7 linked regions of the Homo sapiens genome follow. The protein of the gene in region 7 interacts with the protein of the main gene of each other region in a pairwise test. Each region holds a gene or a part of one and is shown on either strand. Other genes may lie near its edges.

Region 1 (3,500 bases), on a different chromosome or scaffold from region 7:
CTCCTGCCTCAGCCACCCGAGTAGCTGGGTCTACAGGTGTGCGCCACCATGCCTGGCTAATTTTTGTATTTTTAAGAGAGACGGGGTTTCACCATGCTGGCCAGGCTGGTCTCGAACTCCTGACCTCGTGATCCGCCTGCCTCAGCCCCTCAAAGTGCTAGGATTAGAGGTGAGCCACCGCGCCCGGCCTTATATGTTGTATTAATTTTAACAGAGCTTTTGTATCTTTTCCTTTATTTTTCTGTTACTTTTAAACATAGAATATCTTACCTATTCTAAGGTTATTTAATATTCACTGATTTCTTAAAATAATTTTTAGAGTTTTTTATTTATTTATTTATTTAGATGGATTCTCGCTCTGTTGCCCAGGCTGGAGTGCAGCGGTGCGATCTCGGCTCACTGCAAGCTCCGCCTCCCGGGTTGACGCCATTCTCCTGCCTCAGCCTCCTGAGTAGCTGGGACTACGGGCGCCCACCACCACACCCGGCTAATTTTTTGTGTTTTTAGTAGAGATGAGGTTTCACCATGTTGGCCAAGATGGTCTCGATCTCCTGACCTCGTAATCCGCCCGCCTCGGCCTCCCAAAGTGCTGGGATTACAGACATGAGCCACCGCGCCCAGCTGCGTTTTCTTTATTTGACTCTGTAGCTATCTGAAATTTGTATTGATGTATGGGGCAAGATGAAGCCTTAAATGGATTTTTTCCCCATTTTTTTCTTTTGTTTTTGAGACACAGTCTCACATTGTTGCCTGTGCTAGTGTGTAGTGGCGCAATCTCGGCTCACTGCAGCCTCCACCTCCCAGGTTCAAGTGATTCTTCTGCCTCAGCCTCCCAAGTAGCTAGGATTACAGGCATCCACCACCACGCCTGGCTAATTTTTTGTATTTTTAGTAGTGACAGGGTTTCACTGTTGGCCAGGTTGGTCTCGAACTCCTGACCTCATGATCCGCCCACCTCTCCCTCCCAAAGTGTTTCCCCAATTTTTCTAACATCATTTATTGGATGATCAACAAATGAATAGCTGAATCCCATTGAAGTATTTATGTTACATTCGTGTATTTACTAGTTTCTATTGACCAGTTTTTATTGTCACATCTTAACATTTTGGTGATTTTATATTATAAATAATACATTATATAATTATTATGGGATATCTATAAGTAAGTTCCACCACCACAAATTATCTTATTCAGTTATAATAAGATAATAATAAGATATAATAAGTTATAGTACTTCCTAAAGTACTATACATTAAAAAATAAAAGAGTTAGTCCAGCCTTACTGTGTTTGCTCTTAAGGTAAGTTAGCATAGATGCATACATAAAGAAAAAAACAGATCAAAGAAACTGAGCTGTTGATCCTTCTTCAGTTTCTCTAAGGAAAAATCCAAACTTGGAAGAAGTAGCAGTTACAGCAAACAGAGATTCCTTTATTTCAAAAGTCTTCTATAGTATCTCTGACTGCCCCCTAATGTCGTCTCCCTAGCAGTCCTATGGAATAAGTGTTTTCCTCTATAAAAAGTAAAAATGCTTTGCAGTAAAGTGTTTGTGTCTAGAGCATTCTTTTTAGGGGGATAGTTTTTTTATGCAATGGGTTCTTAGTTGCAGCCAATTGGGGTATCTTAATTTTATAAACCATAAAAACAGTGAGTAATTTCCCTGGTTGTTCACAAGCTGTCAAGAATGGTTTCAGGAAAACCAACCCAAATGCCCATCAATGATAGACTAGATAAAGAAAATGTGGTACATATATTCCATGGAATACTATGCAGCCATAAAAAGGAATGAGATCATGTCCTTGGCAGAGACATGGATGGAGCTGGAAGCCATCATCCTTGGCAACCTAACACAGGAACAGAAAACCAAACACTGCATGTTCTCACTCATAAGTGGGAGTTGAACATTGAGAACACCTGGACACAGAGAGGGGAACAACATACACCAGGGCCTGTGGGTGGTAAGGGGAGGGAACTTAGAGGACGAGTCAATAGGTGCAGCAAACTAATATGGCACATGTATACCTATGTAACAAACCTGCACGTTCTGCACATGTATTCCATTTTTTGTTTGTTTGTTGTTAGAATAAATAAAGAAAAAATAAATAAAAATTTTAAGAAAAAAAAAAAAGGTACAACTTGAGTTTCTCAGGCTTGATACAAATGAGGTTCACATTTTATAGCCTTTTGCCCTTACTTGAAGACACCTATAAAATGTTCCATAAGAATTCCTGAGGTCTTTTCAGTTACCAACAGCTAGCTAAGTCTGGTATCAGAAATACCGGAATCCTAGAGATTGTGATTTAGGTACTTCTCTGTATTTTCAGAAATTTTTCCCTAGAAATATTTCTCATATGTGCCCATGAATGTATCCCTTCCATCTGTGCTCTCTCTGTTTCTCTGTTGCTCTCTCGCTTTCTCACTCTTGTTCACTGTCTCTCTTGCTCTCTCTCTCTCTCTCTCTCTCTCTCTCTCTCTCTCTCTCTCTCTCTCTCTCTCTCTCACTGAATACTACTAACTGATGCACCAGAAAGGGGCCAAAACTGTGTTAGCAATCTGACTCCCCCTCCATTGTCATGTAACATCTTACACAAAGCAGGGAAGCTAATGCCTTGATATTTTATAGAGATATTGGTGAAACATTTCTCAGTTTTTATTTAAACTCTCTCTCTTTTTAGAACCCACATATGAGTCCATGGCACTAGGTCAGAGATAAATTAGAATGACCACCATCATAGTCTACTCAGAATCACTCCTCCTTTCCTTAGTCATTTAAGGCTTTTATTTTGGATCAAGCCTTTTGTAGTTACTTCACCTTCTTTCAGAGTGAGTTTTTCTCCCAGGATGCTTCAGTGCTTTATATAAATAAGCTTCCAGTAGGCTTATGCACTTGTTTACAACACAGGACCAGATTATAAAGGTTAAGCTGAGATCCCATTACAATGAGAATCTCTGAGCTCTGTGTCACAACATAACTTGTCCTCTCATCTCTTTACTGTTTTCTTTCTTTTTCTTCATCTTGTTTTTATCCTATCAGTGGATTATTCTGCTTGTGCCCACTTTAATATGTGTCTACACATTTAATTTAAATAAACTGTAGTCTACTTTTTAACTTACTGGCAATCTTCTAACTAGTCATTATTTCATATACATTAAAAACCTCAAATTTGGACCAGTTTTTTAACTGGTACAAAATCCGGTTTGTGAAATAATATTATACTTAGGTCAGAGGAAGCAGAGACCTCCCAAGGACTTCAGTGTGTAGTGACAAATAGCAAAATTTCATTCTTTATGTCATTGGAGAAACCCACCCGGAGCTGAAAACTAAGTCAGATTTCTTGAGTAGCTCCAGTATTCTTGGGATAGCTTTAACAACTTACCTCTCTCTGAAGATGTACAACCATCTTCAGGATTTACGTACTTTAGGGCCTTACCTCCACTTTATAGTGAGCCAGCTGTGACTAATGTTGATCTCTTGTTTTTTGAGGGAACAACAACTTAGAT
Region 2 (3,500 bases), on a different chromosome or scaffold from region 7:
TTGTTCTGTACTAAGAAAAATTCTTCTGCCTTGGGATGCTGTTGATCTATGACCTTACCCCCAACCCTGTGCTCTCTGAAACATGTGCTGTGTCCACTCAGGGTTAAATGGATTAAGGGCGGTGCAAGATGTGCTTTGTTAAACAGATGCTTGAAGGCAGCACGCTCGTTAAGAGTCATCACCACTCCCTAATCTCAAGTACCCAGGGACACAAACACTGCGGAAGGCCGCAGGGTCCTCTGCCTAGGAAAACCAGAGACCTTTGTTCACTTGTTTATCTGCTGACCTTCCCTCCACTATTGTCCTATGACCCTGCCAAATCCCCCTCTGCGAGAAACACCCAAGAATGATCAATTAAAAAAAAAAAATCTTAGAAGTGACCAGAAGGAGGAAGAAAACCAATTATCTACAAAGGAATGACAACTACATTGACAGCTGGCTTCTCATCAACAATGATAGATGCCGGAAGACAAAGACGTAAAATTATGAAAGTGTTTGTTGAGAAAAAAAAAAACAACCATCAACCTAGAATTGTATGCCCCGTTAAACTATCATTCAAAAATAAAAGTAAAACTTGTAAAAAAAAAAAAAAAAAAAAAAAAAGGAATGAACACACAGATGCCCATGTAGCTAACATTTCTGATGTTTATCTATGTAAAGATTCTTTGTTATTATTTAAGTCTCTTTAAAAGATAATACTGTTTAATGCAAAACAATAGTGTTTTGTGGGGTTTAAACACACAAAGAAGTGAAACATACAACAATTATTGCACAAAAACTAGGAGGGGAAAAATAAAAGTATACTTTTGTAAGGTTTGTACACCAGATGTAAAGTAATATATCACCGGAAGGTAGAGAGTGATAAGTTAAATATGTCTACTATAAACGCTAAAGCAACAAAGATAAAAGCCACAGGAAGATGAAATTGTTTTAAAAATACAGAATTAATTCAAAAGAAAGGATACAAAAGGGAAAAAGGAACAAATGAGACAAACAGAAAACAAACAGTAAGATGGTAAATTTAAACCAAACTATACCATTATCCATTAAATGTAAATGGTCTAAACACCAATTAAAAGACAGAGATAATTACAAAGGATCAAAAGAACAAGACCTAACTGTACACTATCTATAAGAAACTCGTATTAAATAGGAAGACACAGTTAACCAAGTAAGTAAAAAGTATAGAAAATGGCCTCTCTTAAGATAAGACTAAAGAAAATGGCTGTTGACATAGTTTGATTCACAAGTTGTCACAATTCAGGAAGTATTTTTATATTCAAGAGTCCTTTTCAAGCCTTGAGATCTAAGTAAATATTAATACTAACTTATACTCTTCATAAAAGTCACCACATATGTGTTTACACATCACCATTTCAATTATCCAAACAGTATCTCTAAATACAGCATATTAGAGATTTCAAAGGAAATTCTCAAGTGAGCTAAGAAATTAGCAATCTGTTCTGATCAATAACCATGTGTTCTCAAAGATGGATACATATACTCAAAATTTTACCTCTATATAATGTGTGATTTTAATAAAATACTATCTATTAAGACAACAAAGTCTGAGCCAGATGACAGAAACAAAATGCAACCACATCTCACCACATCCTTTTCCTTTGGGAAGGAACTGGGGATTAAAAAAATGAATATACTACGCTCATGAGAGACAAGTATGCTAGGGAAAGAGTGGGAATACATTTGTGAAATGTCATGGTAGGTTGGATATTACACCTATAAATGTTTGCCCTACCTTCTCAATTTTCTACATGTGAATTGGTATTTCACCTAGGTTGTCAGGTTTATATATGCAGTTTTTCATATCATTCCATTATACTTTTGATATGAGTCTCCAGTGACATCCTGCATTTCACTCCTGCTACTGATAAATCTGTCTTCTTTTTGTCAGTCTTGCTAGAGGTTTGCAATTTTATTAATCTTCTTAAAGAACCAACATTTTGTCTCACTCATTTTCTCTATTTTTTCTGTTATCAATTTCATTGATTTTTGCTCTTTATTATTTCCTTCCTTCTACTTGCTCTGGTTTTATTTTGCTCTTCTTTTTACAGATTCTTAAAGTGGGAGCTTAGATTGTCCATTTGAGACTTTTCCTGTTTTCTGATGTATGCATTTCATTCTATAAATTTTCCTCTGAAATTTAACTGCAGACTCAGAAAAAGAATAAGATATGGCCACAAGTTTGGAAATAAATAGCAGAAACTTTTAAAATGACCAAATGGGAAACACAACAATTTACCAAGAAAATTCTCCAAGGTAAGATACAGAAAATATTCAAACTCAGCTTAAACTCAAAACAAAATGACTTAGACTGAGTGACTTCAAGTAAATAACCATTTAGTCAGCCATGTAGTAAGAAGGAAAAACCCTGCATGTGGAATATAGCCCACTCAATCTGCATTACAGATAATACGAGACAGGGAGCAGGCAATGCAGTGGGGCACAGAAGAGTTAACAGAGCCACATTTTTCCAGTTAGTAGTCTTAGAGGAACTTCTTTACTACCCAACCAGTTTCACGGATTCCTAAATGCTGCCTAACAGGAGCTGAGGCTGGGCATATGTGACGGATAAATGTACAACCATCATGATTTCATTTCTGCAGGTTGCCCCACCCCATGGAGAAATACTAATTTCTAATATAATATATGGAAGAATAAAATATCTTCTTTCTTACCCTCTGAGCTTTTGCGAGTTCTTCTTTTAATCGTTCATAGCCCTTTTCTCTAACTTCCAAAACAGATGGGCTTCGTAAACGAGACAGACTATCAGTACTCAACCCAAAAATATCATCACTGCCATCGCAAGCCTCTGTTATAGTAGCACCCTGTAAAAACTCTCTCTCTGCATTATAGTTGTCCTTTCTTGTAGTTAATTTAGTTAATCCAGCTGTGACTCCAGAGGTAGAGCAAGGGGCTGGGTCTGTAACATGAAAGCTGTAAAGGAGAGAGACATTTTTCAGAAAATATCAGCATATGCTCCAATAGAACTGGCTTAAACACACAGCTCTAGAACTGTACTACCCAATTTGGTAGCTTCTATATTTAAATAAATAGTATGTCCTCAGTCATATCAGCCACATTTCAAGTGCTCAATAGCTACATGTGGTTAATACCTATCATTCATATTAGATAGCACAGAAATAGAACATTTTCATCAACACAGAAAGTTCTACAGGACAGTGCTACTCAAGAGCAGGGGTTAACAAACTATAGCCTACAGGCTAAACCAAGCCTTCCACCCGTTTTTATAAGGTATCAATGAGCCAAGTATAGTTTTTACAATTTCAAATAGTTGAAAAGAAATCTTTAAAAGAATATTTTGTGACACATGAAAATTAAATGAAATTCAAAATTCTGCATCCATATATGAAGTTTTATTGGAACACAACCACTCTCATTCATTTACATACTGTCTATGGCTGCTTTCAAACTCTAAAGGCAGAGTTGAATAGTTGCAACAGAGACTGCATGGCTTGCAA
Region 3 (3,248 bases), on a different chromosome or scaffold from region 7:
ATTCTGGCCTCTTCCCTGGGGTGTTCTTCTGGTTTTTTACTTCCTGGTATGACCTCTGGACACAGATTTTGGCCTCATATAGGAATGCCACCATTACATATGTCCTCATTTGACATTACTCTCTAACTTAACATGAGCATCTTAGTTTTGTGGTCTTCAGTTTTTAAAGGGATGCTCTGAAAACACTGTTCTGCAGTGCACTGTGCAACCTATTTCACTCCTGGGTTTAGCTGACCTCTTCTTGTGCTAAACTAACTAGGAAAATAAACTAGGACTGATTATCAGTCTCTTTACCTAAATCTTCCTTTTCTTCCCACACTGTAATCATGATTATTTCCCCAGACAGTCTCTATTTCTCTACATTGCACTGCCATAGACTACCCTATTAGCCCCCCTAAATGTAGCTCTTTTGGTTTGACTTTAGTAGTCAATGAAAGAAGGGGTACATCCCCAGTCTCACAGAAAGCACATACACACAGATTGAACACCAGAAACTGGTCTTTCAGTCTTCCATCTTGCCCAATATTTATTTTTTATTTAATATTTTTCATATTGTGCCATTTCCTCAGCATTTACTTACAAATTTAAGTTCCTTACATTAATAGGTTTTCCCTCATGTGAATTCTCTGGTGTTGACTAAGGTTTGAGCTCTGACTGAAGGCTCTTCCACACTCACTGCATTCATAGGGTTTTTCTCCAGTGTGAATTCTAAAGTGTCGAATAAGATGTGAGCTCACTCGGAAGGTTTTCCCACATTCACTACACTCGTAGGGTTTCTCTCTGGTGTGAATTCTCTGATGCCTGATAAGATGTGAGTTCAGGTTGAATGCTCTCCCACATTCTTTGCAACCAAAGGGTCTTTCCCCAGTGTGAATTCGCCGATGTCTAGTAAGATCTGAGCTCTCTGCAAAGCTTTTCCCACATTCATTACATTCATAGCATCTCTCTCCAGTGTGGATTCTCTGATGCCTAGCAAGTTTTGAGCTGTGCCTGAAAGCTTTCCCACATTCATTACACTGATGAGTTTTATCTCCACTGAAAACTGCTGCATGTTTAGCAAGTTTTGGGCTCTTGAAAGATTTTCCATATTGGTGATTTTTTTCTCCAGCATAAATTATTTGATGGTTAATAAAATCTGAGTTCCATTTGAAGCTCTGGTCACAGGTACCATGTTTACAAGATTTCTGGTGTGTGAATTCATTTGAGTTCAGATTTAATCTCCTCTCACATCCATCGTGGCTTATTATTTCACCTCTGACTGTATTTTTGTGGGTGAGGATTTTACCAAAACCTTCATCCTGGGCAGACGAGAGTCTCTGAGACTCCCCTGATTCTTTTTCCCATTGTCTCTTTACCCTGCCTGCAGACTTACAGATGTCTTGAGACTCACCAGATGCTTCTGATATGTATCCTGAGATTCTTCCAGATATAATTCTCTGTGATTCAATTTTTTCAAAAATTTCCAGCTTTGGCATGGATCTACTGTTTTCACTCTCATTATCTAAAATAAAAAAGAAAGGGAAATATTACCTGTTTGCTGCACGAAAAGAAAATTTTATAGCATGCTCAAGATAGTTACATATTGATATGCCCACTTTAATATATGACCTTTCACATGAGAGGAATGATAGAATGAAAGAGGATGATAGGAATGAAAGAAACATTGGTAAGAGCAAGTAATGCCTGCAGTGGTTGGCAGAGAGAGGAATCAGACGTGAAGCATATATATTAGAAAAGATTGGGAGGATTGTCATCAGCAAGAACTCAAGAGATAGGGGGAGATAGAGTACGGAGAAGGAACTCTACAATGTTGACTGCAGCAGATCTTGGGAACCTTGGGTCTATGATACATTTCTAGAGGGAAAATGGAGGCACTACCTCAAAGAAAGCAGATGAGAACACAAGAGAGAAAAGTAAAGCTATAAGTGACTGTGAAGTATGTGTGAGAAAACTTCCATCCACCTATTGTCTATTTCTTCCTCATATTCCATGGTTAATCAGTCTTCTAAATTCTGTCATCACTGTCCACTAAGTGTCCCTTGTATAAATCCCTTCCTTTATATTTCTGCTACCATCGCCATAGTCTCGAACCTTACCATTTCCTATCTAGACTTTAACTGCCTCCTTGCTGTTTTGACTCTGCACTTTTCTTCTTCCTAGTTATCCTAAAGATCCTTACTAGACTAATGGTCATTAAACACTGCCATCCTTTCATACCCTACTCAAAAACCTTGAATCTCTCTCTCTCTTTTTTTGTTCAAGTCTAAATTCCCAAGCCTGGTTTCCAAGATCCATTTATGATCCAGTCTTCACAAATCCCACTCTATACTGTGCTGGAATTGAACCGCCCTTCTTTATTATAAGCTGTCCTTTGTCTACAATACGCTAGGGCAGGAAAGAGGGTTAGGGAGTGCTGTTCATGGGGTGAGGGAAATTTACAATTTTATATACGACAGATGGAGATGTTTCCAGAACAAAACTGAAGGCAGAATATGTAGAAATTTATTAAAAATTAATTGTGGCCAGGCTCCGTGGCTCATGTCTGTAATCCCAGCACTCTGGGAGGCCAAGGCGGGCGGATCACGAAGTCAGGAGTTTGAGACCAGCCTGGCCAACATGGTGAAACCCCGTCTCTACTAAAAATACAAAAATTAGCCGGGCATGGTGGCAGGCACATGTAATCTCAGCTACTCGGGAGGCTGAGGCAGGATAATTGCTTGAACCCAGGAGGTGGAGGTTGCAGTGAGCTGAGATCACGCCACTGCACTCCAGCCTAGGTGACAGAGCAAGACTCTGTGTCAGGAAAAACAAAACAAAACAAAACAAACAAACCAAAAAATTAACGGTAAGTTATTCTTGGGTTTACTATAGGGACAATTCACACCTTAAGTGATACTGCATCTATGAATCTTTTAAATAGATGAGTTTTAGAACAGAGATGAGTATTCTGTGGAAGTAGTCTCTAGAACTATAGCTAACTTTCTATAAAAGTGTAAAAGAGCTTTATAAGACCAAGAGCATAACAGGAAAAATATGGATCACGGTCTATGTTACTTGTGAATTATATACTATTTCTCAGTATATCATCATGTATCTGTTTCTCTTGATCATTATATGTACTTCTCTATGAACATATTTTGCTTCTGTCCATGTATTTCTTTTTCTTTTCCTTCTTTTCTCTTTTCATGATATTTTCTCAACTCATTCACTTTTATTTCCTTTAATTTGGTCATATCATAAAAATGTTC
Region 4 (3,224 bases), on a different chromosome or scaffold from region 7:
CGCCCAGACTGGAGTGCAGTGGTGCGATCTTGGCTCACTGCAAGCTCCGCCTCTCGGGTTCACGCCATTCTCCTGCCTCAGCCTCCCGAGTAGCTGGGACTAATGCCCTGCCACCAGGCCCGGCTAATTTTTTGTATTTTTAGTAGAGACGGGGTTTCACCGTGTTAGCCAGGATGGTCTCGATCTCCTGACCTTGTGATCCACCCGCCTCGGCCTCCCAAAGTGCTGGGATTACAGGCGTGAGCCACCGCGCCCGGCCGCCTCTGAACCAATTCTTAAAGGCAGTTGCTCTGCTCCTCCAGCAACAGGTTCTCGTGGAAGTAAATGAATCTAGTAACAACTTTCTGATTAATTCGTATTTTTTTCTGAAGGCAAGCTCAGCATGCTTAATATGTATTTTTAAGACTATACATAAAGAAGACCTTCCTGTATTCAAAGTAAAGCAATTAAAAAAGAATAGAAGGAGGGGAGAGTGAGAAAATAACCAATGACACCAGAGCTTTAATCGTCACACTTTTATTAAGGAAACTTCCCCATAATAAGTGAAGAGGTAGTTCATAGTATGTCTAACATACAACAGATTTAGAACAGCTATTCATGAGCTGAAATAAAATCTTCTGGGTTGTTTAGGACAGTATTTTAGAAGCAGTGACATTGGTCACCTTCCATTTATAGATCTGCTAATAAAGAAACTTAAATTAAAATCATATCTGATTTACCTCAGAGCCACTTCAGTTTGGAGTTTAGTATTAAATAATAAATAAATAACTGACAGAGTAATTTTTTTTTAAACCAAACTATGGTAGAGAGTCATCTCCTTTTTAGTTCTCCTGGGGATCCATAAAATACAAATGCTGAATGATAAAGGTTTTAAAAATCTTCCTCCTCTACAGAAATATGACTAGTTTTGAAAGTCATCTTCCTCTGTAAAATACTGGATATCAGTAACTTGACTTCTTTGCAATATAATCTAACAAACACGTATAAGCAAAGAAGGAGGAAAGTGAAGTTCCACAAAAATTAGAAAAATGTCTCACAGAAACAGAACACCTCTCCAGCCAAAAATGGAGGAGACTGTAAATCACTTCAGTGGTTTGCATTTTCAAAAGGTGAGAACTAAATGTTTTACTGATACAAAAGCACAAAGTTGCTGATTTTAACTGATCGAATACAGCAAGGCAGCTTTCTTTATTATTTCTAGTATAAAAGCAAATTGAGACTTTGTTTCACTAAGACCACATGAGACTATAAGCTCCATGAGGGCAGGGACTATATCAATCTTACCTTCATTATCCTCAGTATCTAGCATAGTGTCTAGCAACAGTAGGTGCTTAACTAATGTTTCTTGAACAACTGAATGAACCCAGAAATAGTCTCCAACCAAAGAGACCAATCTTATTTGAACCCGTGCCTTTTAGTCTTCAAACCAGTAACAAAAACAAGACATGAATGTGAGCAAACGAAGCACTCCAACTTGAAATTTCCCTGTGAAGAAATGATGTTGACAGAAAATACCAAAAAATGCTGTTTGGTTGACAGGGTAGAGTCTCACTATTGCATAGAATTGGTACTCTTTGGCTGGATCATGTAAAAATCACAATGCTAGGAAGCATCATTAGACCATATAATGAGTGATGTTAGGCATAAGGTACCTATTAGTCTTACCACTCAACTGTATTATCATTTTAAATATTTGAACAAAAGACAAAAATCATACTTCACATCTGACTCACATGATGATAATTTACATATGATAACAATGATACATGTAAACGTATCAAATATAACAATTGAAGATCCCCTCTGACTATGCAAGCCTAATTTTTCAAATCTGCATGCACTCTCATAGCTCAAAAATAAAAACAGAAAATCCTGATGGAAACTAATAAACAGTTTTCCACACAAAATCAACTTCGCATTTAGATTCTTCTCACATTATTCTTGCTTTTTCCCTCCCTAAACAAACCTAGCAAATCACTCACTTGGATGGGAAGAATATAATATTCATCTAACTAAAAAATAATTAATATAAATCCCTCTGCGATATTTTGTTGGCAAAATTCAGGTTGTCTCAGAAAGCCAACAGGGAGACACAAAGGGGAAACACAAACTAGGAGCTTTTTGCTAATGCATTATTCTTCATGTACTAAATCTTTTAAAGCCAAGGGATAGCGAGAAGAAGGAAGAAGATGCTAGCTCATATTTAGTTATACCTTGGTCAATATTGGCCAGGCCACCTCTTCAGGCTTTGGATACCCCAATTTAAAATGAAAGAGGTGGAGTAAATGACCTCTTAAGATTCTCTAAGGACTCTACTAATACTATTACCTAAATCTAACTCATGGGTGAGAAACAAATAAGACTTAGAATTTTAGGTCTGAAGTACAACATGTGTTTTAGGAAAAAGAGCTGTTTTGTTTTTCCTTTTTGAAAATTAACTTTGTATTTGCAATCAAAGGCAGCAAGGTGGCACAGTGTACCTTTAAGAGGTATCTGAATACAGAAATTTGATTGCCCCTTCTGTGTCCAACCTAACTTTTATCATCCGTTTTAGAAATTAAGGTACATGAGGAAACGAAAATTCAGAGACTTTTATGGTGCACAGGACAAAACTCTGATGGCCAAACTCACCTTTCTGATGGCTAAACTCTGAAACAAAATTCAGAGACTCCCAAATAGCCTCTTTTTAGAGAGCCCACTATACTTTAGCACATTTTTAGCGTGCCTGGAGCAGTCCTGATCTCAAAAGCATCAACAAGTTACACATTAATTATAAGCATATGGCCTCTTATGGGACATGCTACCAGAGAAACCGCCCATGTAAGTGCTGTTGTATAAGTGTACTTCTATCCCTGTTGATTATGCTCCTCATGGTCATCCCTAACTATCTGCCTGCAGGTGTTCCTCAAGAGAGAGTACTCTGGTATATGTGAACAATTCAATGAGATGAAGTTGGGCTATGATACTGTTGAAAAGAGTACATAACAAACCAGCATACTTCTTTATAGCCAGCTCCAAGACAAGTACAAATGGTAGGAAGCAGATTCATTTATCAGACATGGAGGAATAATCAATAGGCAACCAGAAGTTCTATCACATTTTCAGGTCAATAGCAATATCACCTTATATCTCAGCCTATTTTCTACCAAAGAAAGATTATTCACTTCTCTTAGCATAGCATCTATTAGTGGAGAGTAGGTGACGTTATTAACTTGTTGGTACCT
Region 5 (4,167 bases), on a different chromosome or scaffold from region 7:
GCTTTTACTTCTGAGGATTTAGTGAAAACTTCCTGGTTCAAGCATAAAAAGAAAAAGATAAAAAAAGATATATGTATATCATCTATATCTATATATCTATATCTATATCTATATCTAGGGTTGCCTGTAAATGAGGCATTACAAAAATCAATTGCTTTTGATTCATCAAAAATTGATTAAACACCATGGGCTGTAACTATATTTGAATCCACGTAGTCAAATCAATGTTATTCAAGTAGTTATATTTATAAGACAGCCTCATGACTAATCAAGTAGGATTCTTAGCTTGATCTTCTGTTTTAAGCATTTGGCTTGACCATAGAAGTCTTTTGGCTATTTAAAATATCAAATTTATTTTCAAAGGATAAAGATTTTTCCCTTTTGGAAAACAGTGCCTCTGAAAGCAATCCTAAAGATGTAATTGCTGCAATATAAAATTTGGAACTTAGCTTCCAACAGTGACCACTTTGGAAGTTTATGATTAAGTGTAAATTCTGGTATAATAGTTTAACTTCATGCTCATTATTTTTACAGCCAGACCTATTAAGAATATGTACTAGCGTTAAGTATGTATACTTAATGTGTGTATGAAGTAAATGTTTTAGTGTTTTAAATCTGCCACTGTCATTTAGAAATTGAGATCTAGTTTTCTAGTTTAAGGATGGCCTTAAAGTATATTTATTTTATATTTATTTTATCTAATTAGACTTAATGTCCAAAGCGGATCATTTTAACTTAGTTATAATTACACAGCCAAACACTGCTCTTATAACCCTGATTGGTCTGGAAAACATGATTCGTTTTTTTTTTTCCCCATAGGAAACTTGATGAGAGAGCAAGGGTGAATCTGTACAAAGAATCTGACACTTAAAAAGACAGCTCAGGCCGGGTGCGGTGGCTCACGCCTGTAATCCCAGCACTTTGGGAGGCTGAGGCAGGTGGATCACGAGGTCAGGAGATCGAGACCATCCTGGCTTACACAGTGAAACCCCGTCTCTACTAAAAATACATAAAATTAGCCGGGCGCCTGTAGTCCCAGCTACTCGGGAGGCTGAGGCAGGAGAATGCCGTGAACCCAGGAGGCGGAGCTTGCAGTGAGCCAAGATCGCACCATTGCACTTCAGCCTGGACGGCAGAGCGAGACTCCGTCTCAAAAAAAAAAAAAAAAAAAAAAAAAAAAAAAAAAAAAAAAGACAGCTCAGCCCTCATGTCTGTCTGACAATGTGTCTTCAGCACCAACTTTTTATATGAGAGGTTATGTACATTATCTCCTGTCAGGTGCACAGTGTCTGCGGAGGGATAGCAAAATGTAGACGACCAGCTCTTACCTCTTTATGGTTCTTTTTGAGGTAAGTCATCTCCTCACTCAGGGTTTCATACTGAATCTCCAGATCTGTTCTGCACAGGGTTATTTCATCCAAAACTCTTCGTAACCCATTGACATCAGCCTCTACACTCTGGTGAAGAGCCAGCTCATTTTCATACCTTAAAGAGTGTTAATGATTTCCTAATTTGTCACATGGTTGGAGACATAGTCACTAGTCACTGATCAATGACAAATGCTAGCATTCTGGAATTTTGAAGATTTGGCCACAAGAGGCATTTTCAAAGCTTGTTGTATAATAATTATTGTTTCTACTTTGCAGTATTTGACAGAAAAAGAACTAGGGTATTGGGCGCTAGTTTTAATAGCAGTTCATGCTTTGTATTTAATAGTCAAAGCATAAAAAAGTAATAACATCCTGTTTATGTGAAATTCAAGTGTTTTATAATTTTGGAATAAGAGTTGCTAAATTTGATGTAATGCGTTGCATGAATTGCCATGAATTCATTTCACTCTGGCAGTCTACTTACTTGAGTCTGAAATCATCAGCTGTAAGCCTGGCATTATCGATCTGCAGAACAGCATTAGCATTGCTGGTGGTGGATGCGATGATCTAGAAATGGGAATTTGACTTTTATCATGAAGTAAACCAACTGAATCTACTTAATGCTTATTTCTAATGCTAAATTGGAATTCTCTTTAAGAAATCACAAGTAGGAGGGCATGGTGGCAGGCACCTGTAATCCCAGCTACTTGGGAGGCTGAGGCAGGAGAATCTCTTGAACCCAGGAGGTGGAGGTTGCAGTGAGCCAAGATCCCACGGTTGCACTCCAGCCTGGGCAACAAGAGCAAAACTCCTTCTCAAAAAAAAAAAAAAAAAAAAATCACAAGTAGGAATGATAAATGTTTTTAGAATTTAATAAAGAAAGGAAAACAAAATTTAGAAATAAAGGTACATGAAAATGATTGTGCAGTATGATTTCTTACCTGATTTTTAAGGTCATCAATTATTGGGAAATATCTGCTATAGTCATGATCAAGACCACGGCAAGAGCCAGGCCCAAATTTCTCATACCAGCCCTTGATCTTCTGCTCCAGGTCAGCGTTGGCCTCCTCCAGAGCATGCACACTGTCCAGGTAGGATGCCAGGCGGTCATTGAGGTTCTGCATGGTCACCTTCTCATTGCCAGAAAGGAGCCCCCGCTCATTCACAGTGAAGCCAGCACAGGGATTACCTCCCCCTGTGTTTCCTCCCGATGAGCTGCCTCCGAAGGCACTAGAGAAGCCACTTCCAATCCCTGAAATGCCACAAGAATTTCCAGTACCAAAGCTGGTTCCCCCACCATAGAGTCTGAGTGATCCAGTGGTGGGACGAGGACAGGACCTCCTGGATGCACTGGAAAGTCGAAGAGACATGGTATCAGGGCAAACGCGTTGCAGAGCTGTATTTGTGAAAGCCAGAATGGAGTGCCTTCTTGTCTAAAAGGTTTGGTTTGCCTTTTTATAGGCAAGTCCCAAGTGTGTTCTGAATGAAATTCTGCCTACACAGAGTAAAACATGGCTTGCCAGTCTCAGCAAGTTGGCATAATTGGGTGATTTTTTCTAATTAGTAACTCACTTTGCTGGGCTCATTCCTGTAGGAGGGCAGTTGCCCTCAGGTTGGTGGTTATCTGAGAAATGGGTCTGGGTGGAGCAATGTCAGGTTCATTATTACGTTTTTAAATGCTGAGTGAGTCATTCTTCACTTCCATCCTTGGAAGTAAACCTCATCAGCTCATTACAGGATAGAAATTTAGCATCATGGTTTTGGGCTATTATGCCAAGGCAGATTGTGATGTTTCTGAGGCTTTTTCTGCTTTTATTTTCACAAGTTTTTCCACATAAGTAGAGAATAGAACTGTAATCATTTCCCCAACCTGGTTCTTCAACCAATAGGTTTTTGTTTTTATTTTTAAATTCCTCTTGCCACTCTTTCCCATGGGAAGTTAACTTCCATTCTGGCTGACATGAGCATCATATTCTGTTGACACTTATGACTGAGGAGAGTTGTCTTACCTTATCCATTTTGGTAATTAGGAGCACACCCCTAATTGGTGTTATGTTTTGTGGGAGTTTGGAAAGACATTAACTTATTTCCTGACCCTGCAAAATCTGAAGCAAACCTGGTAGGAACTATTTTTTCTGTCTTAATTTATTGTGGTTTAGCTCAGATGAAAGTCATCAGTAAGGTATTTAGTCGGTGGGAATTCACATATATTTACTGAAAACTCTACCTATTATGGAAATATAAAAAATTGACAAATAAGGCCAGGCACAGTGGCTTACGCCTGTAATCCTAGCACTTTGGGAGGCTGAGGCAGGTGGATCACTTGAGGTCAGGCATTTGAGACCAGCCTCACCAACATGGTGAAACCCCATCTCTACTAAAAATACAAAAATTAGCCAGGCATCATGGCGAGGTGCCTGTAATCCCAGCTACTCGGGAGGCTGAGGCAAGAGAATCAATTGAACCTGGGAGGCAGAGGTTACAGTGAGCTAAGATTGTGTCACTGCACTCCAGCCAGAGTGACAGAATGAGACTCTGCCTCAAAAAAAAAAAAATGAGAAATAAAAATTGTATATATTTATGGTGCACGACATGATTTTTTGATATATGAATATATTGTGTAATGACCAAATCAAGCTAATTAACATATCTATTACCTCACATACCTATTTTGTGGTAAGAACATTTAAAATCTACTTTCTTATTGTTATTAACTATAGTCACCATATTGTACAATAGTTATCCTGAACTTATTCTTCCCACCTAAATGAAATTTTGTATTCTTTGACCAAAATTT
Region 6 (2,974 bases), on a different chromosome or scaffold from region 7:
ATAACACATTCCCATGATGAAAGAAGTAGGGAAGAGAGACAATGATCAGTCAATACAGCAAAGTTTCTTGTTTTTATCTGCATGTCAAATTAATTGGGTTTTATCCCCCATCCCAGCTCCCTAATTACAAACTAGGGTGTCTAGTGTATCCCCAGGCTACATTAAAAAGCTGGTGAATTTTAAATTCCAGTTTATCCAAACCCTACCTTTTTCAGTGCTCACCACCCTTTCTCTAGAGGCTCCCATGTCTAATAATGCCTCTCCGGGTAGTTCCTTATACTCTAGCCTATTTTGTATTCTTACTACTTAAGTTTTACCAATATCCCATCCTGTAGGATCCCTACCAGATGATTTGTCTAATCTGAAAAATTATTTTGAGCTAAGATGTTCCTAGCTGCTATCTGGAAAGGATGACATTTAATTATATGTAATGTAAAGAAGCCTTTCAGTGCTTTAACTCTAGGAGTGGAGTGCTGGTTACTGTTTGGCTTTAGAAGTGACGTTAAGAACCTCCTATCTGTTCTTTTTTATTTTTATTTTATTTTATTTTTTTTAGAGGAGAGGTCTCACTATGTTTCCCAGGCTTGTCTCAAACTCCTGGGCTCAAGTGATCTTTCCACCTTAGCTTCCCAAAGTGCTAGGATTATAAGCATGAGCCACTGTGCCTGGCTCAACCTGTCTTTTGATTCATTCATCTTTCACTGAGTATTTACTAAATAGCAGCTATATGCCAGACACTATACTAAATGTAAGGAATCCAAAGGTTAGACACTTACATTACTTCTCTTCAAGAAGCAGGAGAGTGAGCACTTACAATAGTGTAATAATTACCATACTAGAGATACACCGTGAACTACAAAGAGGATAGCTATCCCTGAGGTGCACCTGCAAAAATATCACAGAGTAGGCTTGCTTGAGCTGAGAAGGTCAGGTGGGAGCTGAAAGGGGGTGACATTTTAGGCAAAGAAACGGTGAAAAAAAATAGCATCAGAGAATAACATTCTAAGAATAGCAACTGCTCTGAGTTTGATTCTGATAAGGAGTCGTCTGTAGGAGGGAAAATCAGCAATGTGTGTTTTAATAAACGATCCAGCTGATTCTGATGCACAATAAGGTTAGAAACCACCGAGCTAGGATTTAGACAGGAGGTGATGACAGCAAGGACATCAGTTTCAGGAAAAAATATTTTACCCAGCATATACACTGACTATCCATTGTCATTTCCTATTCCTTTTCATTCCTCTATTTACTCTGACCTGCATGTTGTCATGCTTCCTGCTTCCAGCTAATTATTATCCTTCAAACACACTCCCCTCCTTGGATGGTTCCTATTCACTATATTCCTCTCAGACCCCAAATCCTATTATCCTCTCCATTCACTTTTACTTGATTTTACTTGCCACCTATGTTTCAGGCCCCTGCATGTTTCTCCCAAACTTTTACCTCCCTCCCCATCTCTGTTCTCCAGTCTCTCTAATTATCCTTGGCATATCTATAGTCCCCTCATTTATCCGTCTTCCCTTACATAGTATTGCTAACTTATCTCTTGAGCTCTATTTTTGCCTTTTCTTCTCTTAATCTACTCTCAAACAACTTGTTCTGCTGATATCTTCCTTAATTCTTAATTTCTTCCTTACATTGTGACTCTGTGCTATGATGATACCAAAAATAAGATGGTACCAAATATTTGATATGTGTGTTGTATGTGACTTCTCATTATTTTATAACACATTTATAACATTTACATGTTCTTTCTTCCATAGGCTGTTTGCTTCTCAAACATAGAATAGGACCCGTTTGTGTACTGTTTGTTTGTTACAGGTGATAAAACTAGGACTAAGAATGAAGAGTTGTTCCAGAAGGAAGATATGCCCAAAGACAAGGAATTCCTTGGGGAGATAAATGACAGACTGAACAAAGATACTCCTCAGCATCCTAAGTCCAAAGATATTATTGAAAATGAGGGCAGATCAGAATGGCAACAGAGGGAAAGAAGACGATATAAATGTGATGAATGTGGGAAAAGTTTCAGTCATAGCTCAGACCTTAGTAAACACAGGAGAACTCACACGGGAGAGAAGCCCTATAAATGTGATGAGTGTGGAAAAGCCTTCATTCAGCGCTCACATCTCATTGGACATCATAGAGTACACACGGGAGTAAAACCCTATAAATGTAAAGAATGTGGGAAAGACTTCAGTGGGCGCACAGGTCTTATTCAGCATCAGAGAATCCACACAGGTGAAAAACCCTATGAATGTGATGAGTGTGGAAGGCCTTTCCGAGTAAGTTCAGCTCTTATTAGACATCAAAGAATTCATACCGCAAATAAACTCTACTAATATAGCAGTAATATCAAAAGTTCTTTGGACACTCAGGCCTAACTAGTTATCAAAGAATCTATTTTAGAAACCTTGAGTTTCCTCAATGTGGTCAAAGCTTCAGTCATCATTAAACTTCTCTGGACCAAAGAATCTACCTGAGTAAAATATCCTTTTATTTCAAATTAGTTCAGTTTTGAGGGGGAATCAAGAATTCTTTCAGAAAGCCTTGTCCACTGACAACACTGCTCACCTGCAGCCCAAGATCAATGGTTCCTGGATGAAAGACAGTGAATTAATTCTGTCTCTGCTCCAGGTCCTTTTTAGTTGACCATTCAGTGTCTGACTTTAGGCAAGACAAGACATACACATTTTTCTCTGCCTTCATTTCCCCTTCTGTAAAGTACAGATGATAATAGAGGCTTACCAGGTATGTTTCGACAAGTTAAAACTGATGAAAACTACTTTTGAGATTAAGATATAAAACAATGCTAATTATTTGTTTTCCACCATTACTCATATAATAGCCTCAACATCCCTTTTTTATCTTAAAATGGGGAGTATGATTATTTTTTGGAAATTTTTGTTTGCCAATGATAAAGAATAAGCCATCAGAAGACAGGAGGCCAGCCTGGTCAACACAGCGAGACACC
Region 7 (3,500 bases):
GAGAAGGGGAGTCCATAGAATAGGTGGATCTACCCCAGCAGAGAGGTTGGGGAAGGCTTCCCTGAGGAACAGAAGGTAAACCTGGAAGTGGAAGAGAAGCAGTGAAAAGGGGTGGGAGGGGCATTCTGGGCAACAGGAATGGCAGAGGGAAAGGCCTTGTGGCCGGGCACAGCGTGGAAACAAGACGGTGACAGGCACATGTTGATGTGCAGGGCACCAGCTCCCAGGGCCTAAGAGCAAAGAGAGGTCTGGGGCAGGGGTTAAGCAGCTGGAGGTATGGTCAGATTTATGTCGTAAGGAGCTCCCTGGCTGCCATGGGGAGAAGGGACTGGAGCGCTGGAGTGGAAGAAGGAACAGTGAAGAGGGACTGGAGGCCTGCTGGGCTGCTGGCTCTGCAGGCAGGGAGAAGTGGGGATCCATTTAAAGGGAAAGGGCCTGCGTGCAGTGGCTCATGGCTGTAATCTCAGTGCTTTGGGAGGCTAAGGCAAGAGGCTCACTTGAGCCCAGGAGTTCAGGACCAGAGTGGGCAATATAGTGAGACCCCATCTCTACAAATATTAAAAATTAGCGGGGCACGGTGGTGTGCACACCTGTAGTCCCAGCTTCTTGGGAGGCTGAGGCATGAGGATTGCTTGAGCCCAGCAGTTCAAGGCTACAGTGAGCTATGATCGCACCACTGCACTCCAATCTGGGTGATACAGTGACAGCCTGTCTCTAAAGAATAAAGAAAGAACACTTAAAAAAAATAGGTTGGGGTAGGGAAGGGCAGGGCTGGGACCTGAAGAGAGCTTTGTCCCACCCGGAGGCAGAAAGGGGCACCAGGTGGCCTCCCGGGCTCCAGAGGCTGCAGCACAGCAACCCATCAGAAGCCGGGAGAACAAAGACCAGAGGCCGTTTCCCCATTCGCTCCCAAGACAGGCCGGGGCAGGCAGGCTGGGAGGATGCAAGGTGGTGCCGGTAACACCGGCACAGACCTGCCGGGAGCAGAGAGCAGCTGCACGCTGGGAAGCCAGGGTTCTCTTCCCCAGACGAGGAGCTTTGGAAGCTCTCTAAAGCAGCTTCTCCCCCAGGTCCCCTACTTCCAGGGCCTCCCCCAACCACACCCTTAGGGTATTGCTTAAAGGGTGTGGACGGAGCTGAGTCTCTCCCCCAAAATACCCTTTCCCAACATGATCCGCCCGACAGTGCCTGAAATGCTACCATTAGCAGCTGTTCCTCCAGGTAAGCTCAGCTCTGTCCTGAATCGAATTTATCCAGTCTCATTCCTTCTTCCAAGAGAACTGGGCAAGGGATGGAGGGGCAAAGCTAGAGAGAAGAGAGGTAGAGGGGGTTGCTGGGGGTAGAGGCAGTGAGCACAAACACCAATGACTCTACCATTTGGCCTGGAGCAGTCCCCAGGCACAGTTGCTGCCAGATCCAGGTACGAGTGGGGAGGCCTCATTTGCTTCCCCAGGCCCCCCTGGACTTCCAGCATCAGCCATTTGTGAGCTGTGAGCTCAAGGTGAATGTGAGCCCTCTGTGAAACAGGACACTTCCACCTGCATGGCAGGCCCGCTGTCAGAATGAGATGTAACATCCATGGCCTTGCTGGGCTCACAGTATGTGCCTGAGAAATGGCGGGGCGGCTCTCTCTAAGCTGTTACCCACATGGGTCCCCTCCCATATCGATCAGGCGTTCCTACCAACACTGATCGATGGGTGCATGTGCGTGTCTGCTTGAGTCAGCTCCCTGGTCAGCTCTGGGCTTGGCTCAGTCATGAATCTTTTTTTTTTTTTTTTGAGACGGAGTCTCGCTCTGTCTCCCAGGCTGGAGTGCAGTGGTGTGATCTCGGCTCACTGCAATCTCTGCCTCCCAGGTTCAAGTGATTCTCCTGCCTCAGCCTCCCCAGTATCTGGCTGGGATTACAGGTTTCCGCCACCACACCCAGCTAATTTTTAATATTTATTTTTGTAGAGATGGGATTTCACCATGTTGGCCAGGCTGGTCTTGAACTCCTGACCTCAAGTGATCCGTCCGCCTTACCCTCTCAGAGTGCTGGGATTACAGGCGTGAGCTACCGCGCCCAGCCCGTCATGACTCTTAATAGCAGTGTGTGCTTCCTAGTATTGGCTGCTATGATTTGCCGGGCACTCGCTCTGAACCAGGTCATGGGCTGGACCCATCATGTGCATCCCCTCATTTGATCTACCCAGCAGCCTCACCAACTGGGGGTTGCTGTTGTCACCCCACCTCATAGATGAAGAAACTGAGGCTCGGAGACATTAAGTGACTTGCCCAAGATCAAACAGCTTAAGAGACCCAGAGCTGCGGCCTGAACTCATGCCCAGCTAGCATCAAACACTGTGTTCTTGCTTTTTTTTTTTTCTTTTTGAGACAGAGTCTCACTCTTTTACCCAGGCTGGAGTGCAGTAGCACAATCTCAGCTCACTGCAACCTCTGCCTCCCAGGTTCAAGGGATTCTCCTGCTTCAGCCTCCTGAGTAGCTGGGACTACAGGCACCCACCCCCATGCCCAGCTAATAAAACACTGTGTTCTTAACCACTAAGAGGCTCAGGGTACCCCAGGTGCCTCCCAGTAGAGCATGCTTCCCTTTTGCCAGCTCTCCCCTCAAAGCCTGGGGTCCTGCCTCCCATGCAGGAGCGCTCCATCAGGGCGGCCCCAGTGTTGCAAGACCCGTCTAGGCAAGGCCAGGCTGCTGGGTGTTTACTGGGACCCAGGTCTGGGTGGAGGGGCAAGATTAATCCCATTCAACAAATTCAGAAGCGCTGGGGCTCAGGGATGCTATGTTTCTTTTCAAGCAGAGGCAGAATTGAGCCTGACTGCAGAGCTGGGTCTTGGCCACTCCATCCCACCCCGTGACAGGTCAGATGCCTCCTCTGTGAAGTCCTCCCTCACCTCCCAGCATCTGTGCTCTGACTGTGACAACTCTCACTTGAGGCCTGTCACAAAGTATGTGAGTGGCCAGGGTGGAGACCTCATCTGTCCGGCTCTATGCTCCATTGCTCCTGCCTGGCCCCATCAGTCCGACGCTCATGTAACCATACATGTACTGAAGCTTAACTCCATCTTATCTCTGTGATGTGACTGCCAGCGACTCAAGTGCAGGGAGGTTGTCCACGTCTCCTCCACGACCACGTGCTAAAACCCAGCAACAGTGCCTATGGAATTGTGCAGTGCACAGCCTGTCCACCATGATATCAAGTTTAACCCTGGGTACACCACAGCTAGCTTGCCCGCATTTGCTTAATAACTGTAATCGTCACAGATGCTATTACCTGCGGCCGCTTATCATTCACAACCTTTCCCCTGCATTATTTCATTTAATCCTGAGCCAACATCGCCAGGCAGGCACCGTGCTTATTCCCATCCCACAGGTGAGAAAACAGGCTCAGAGAAGCCAAGCAGCTCCTCTGAGGTCGCACAGCCAGGAGGGTGGCAGCGGGTCTCCTCCAGGGCCTCTCTACTAGGCTGGAGGCTGTCCTCGGTCACCTGCACCATC

The links.
Region 1: the proteins of PPL (region 7) and CEP57L1 interact in binary tests that used the Homo sapiens proteins (3 or more experiments, as listed by UniProt).
Region 2: the proteins of PPL (region 7) and RAB3IP interact in binary tests that used the Homo sapiens proteins (3 or more experiments, as listed by UniProt).
Region 3: the proteins of PPL (region 7) and ZNF165 interact in binary tests that used the Homo sapiens proteins (3 or more experiments, as listed by UniProt).
Region 4: the proteins of PPL (region 7) and ZBTB26 interact in binary tests that used the Homo sapiens proteins (3 or more experiments, as listed by UniProt).
Region 5: the proteins of PPL (region 7) and KRT25 interact in binary tests that used the Homo sapiens proteins (3 or more experiments, as listed by UniProt).
Region 6: the proteins of PPL (region 7) and ZSCAN16 interact in binary tests that used the Homo sapiens proteins (3 or more experiments, as listed by UniProt).

The regions. Positions count from the first base shown.
Region 1 is NC_000006.12:109,140,507-109,144,006, forward strand, and holds part of CEP57L1 (centrosomal protein CEP57L1), read left to right. Parts: exon of another isoform or gene 1-169; intron 170-3,500. UniProt on the Homo sapiens protein: Centrosomal protein which may be required for microtubule attachment to centrosomes.
Region 2 is NC_000012.12:69,755,860-69,759,359, reverse strand, and holds part of RAB3IP (rab-3A-interacting protein isoform alpha 1), read right to left. Parts: intron 2,956-3,500; coding exon 2,697-2,955; intron 1-2,696. UniProt on the Homo sapiens protein: Guanine nucleotide exchange factor (GEF) which may activate RAB8A and RAB8B. Promotes the exchange of GDP to GTP, converting inactive GDP-bound Rab proteins into their active GTP-bound form.
Region 3 is NC_000006.12:28,086,816-28,090,063, reverse strand, and holds the end of ZNF165 (zinc finger protein 165), read right to left. Parts: intron 1,502-3,248; coding exon 594-1,501; 3' UTR 501-593; downstream 1-500. UniProt on the Homo sapiens protein: May be involved in transcriptional regulation.
Region 4 is NC_000009.12:122,915,066-122,918,289, forward strand, and holds the end of ZBTB26 (zinc finger and BTB domain-containing protein 26), read right to left. Parts: 3' UTR 501-3,224; downstream 1-500. UniProt on the Homo sapiens protein: May be involved in transcriptional regulation.
Region 5 is NC_000017.11:40,752,532-40,756,698, forward strand, and holds the start of KRT25 (keratin, type I cytoskeletal 25), read right to left. Parts: upstream 2,801-4,167; 5' UTR 2,741-2,800; coding exon 2,312-2,740; intron 1,938-2,311; coding exon 1,855-1,937; intron 1,486-1,854; coding exon 1,329-1,485; intron 1-1,328. UniProt on the Homo sapiens protein: Essential for the proper assembly of type I and type II keratin protein complexes and formation of keratin intermediate filaments in the inner root sheath (irs). Plays a role in the cytoskeleton organization.
Region 6 is NC_000006.12:28,127,609-28,130,582, forward strand, and holds the end of ZSCAN16 (zinc finger and SCAN domain-containing protein 16), read left to right. Parts: intron 1-1,763; coding exon of another isoform or gene 1,764-1,821; coding exon 1,822-2,342; 3' UTR 2,343-2,474; downstream 2,475-2,974. UniProt on the Homo sapiens protein: May be involved in transcriptional regulation.
Region 7 is NC_000016.10:4,930,649-4,934,148, forward strand, and holds part of PPL (periplakin), read right to left. Parts: intron 1-3,500. UniProt on the Homo sapiens protein: Component of the cornified envelope of keratinocytes. May link the cornified envelope to desmosomes and intermediate filaments. May act as a localization signal in PKB/AKT-mediated signaling.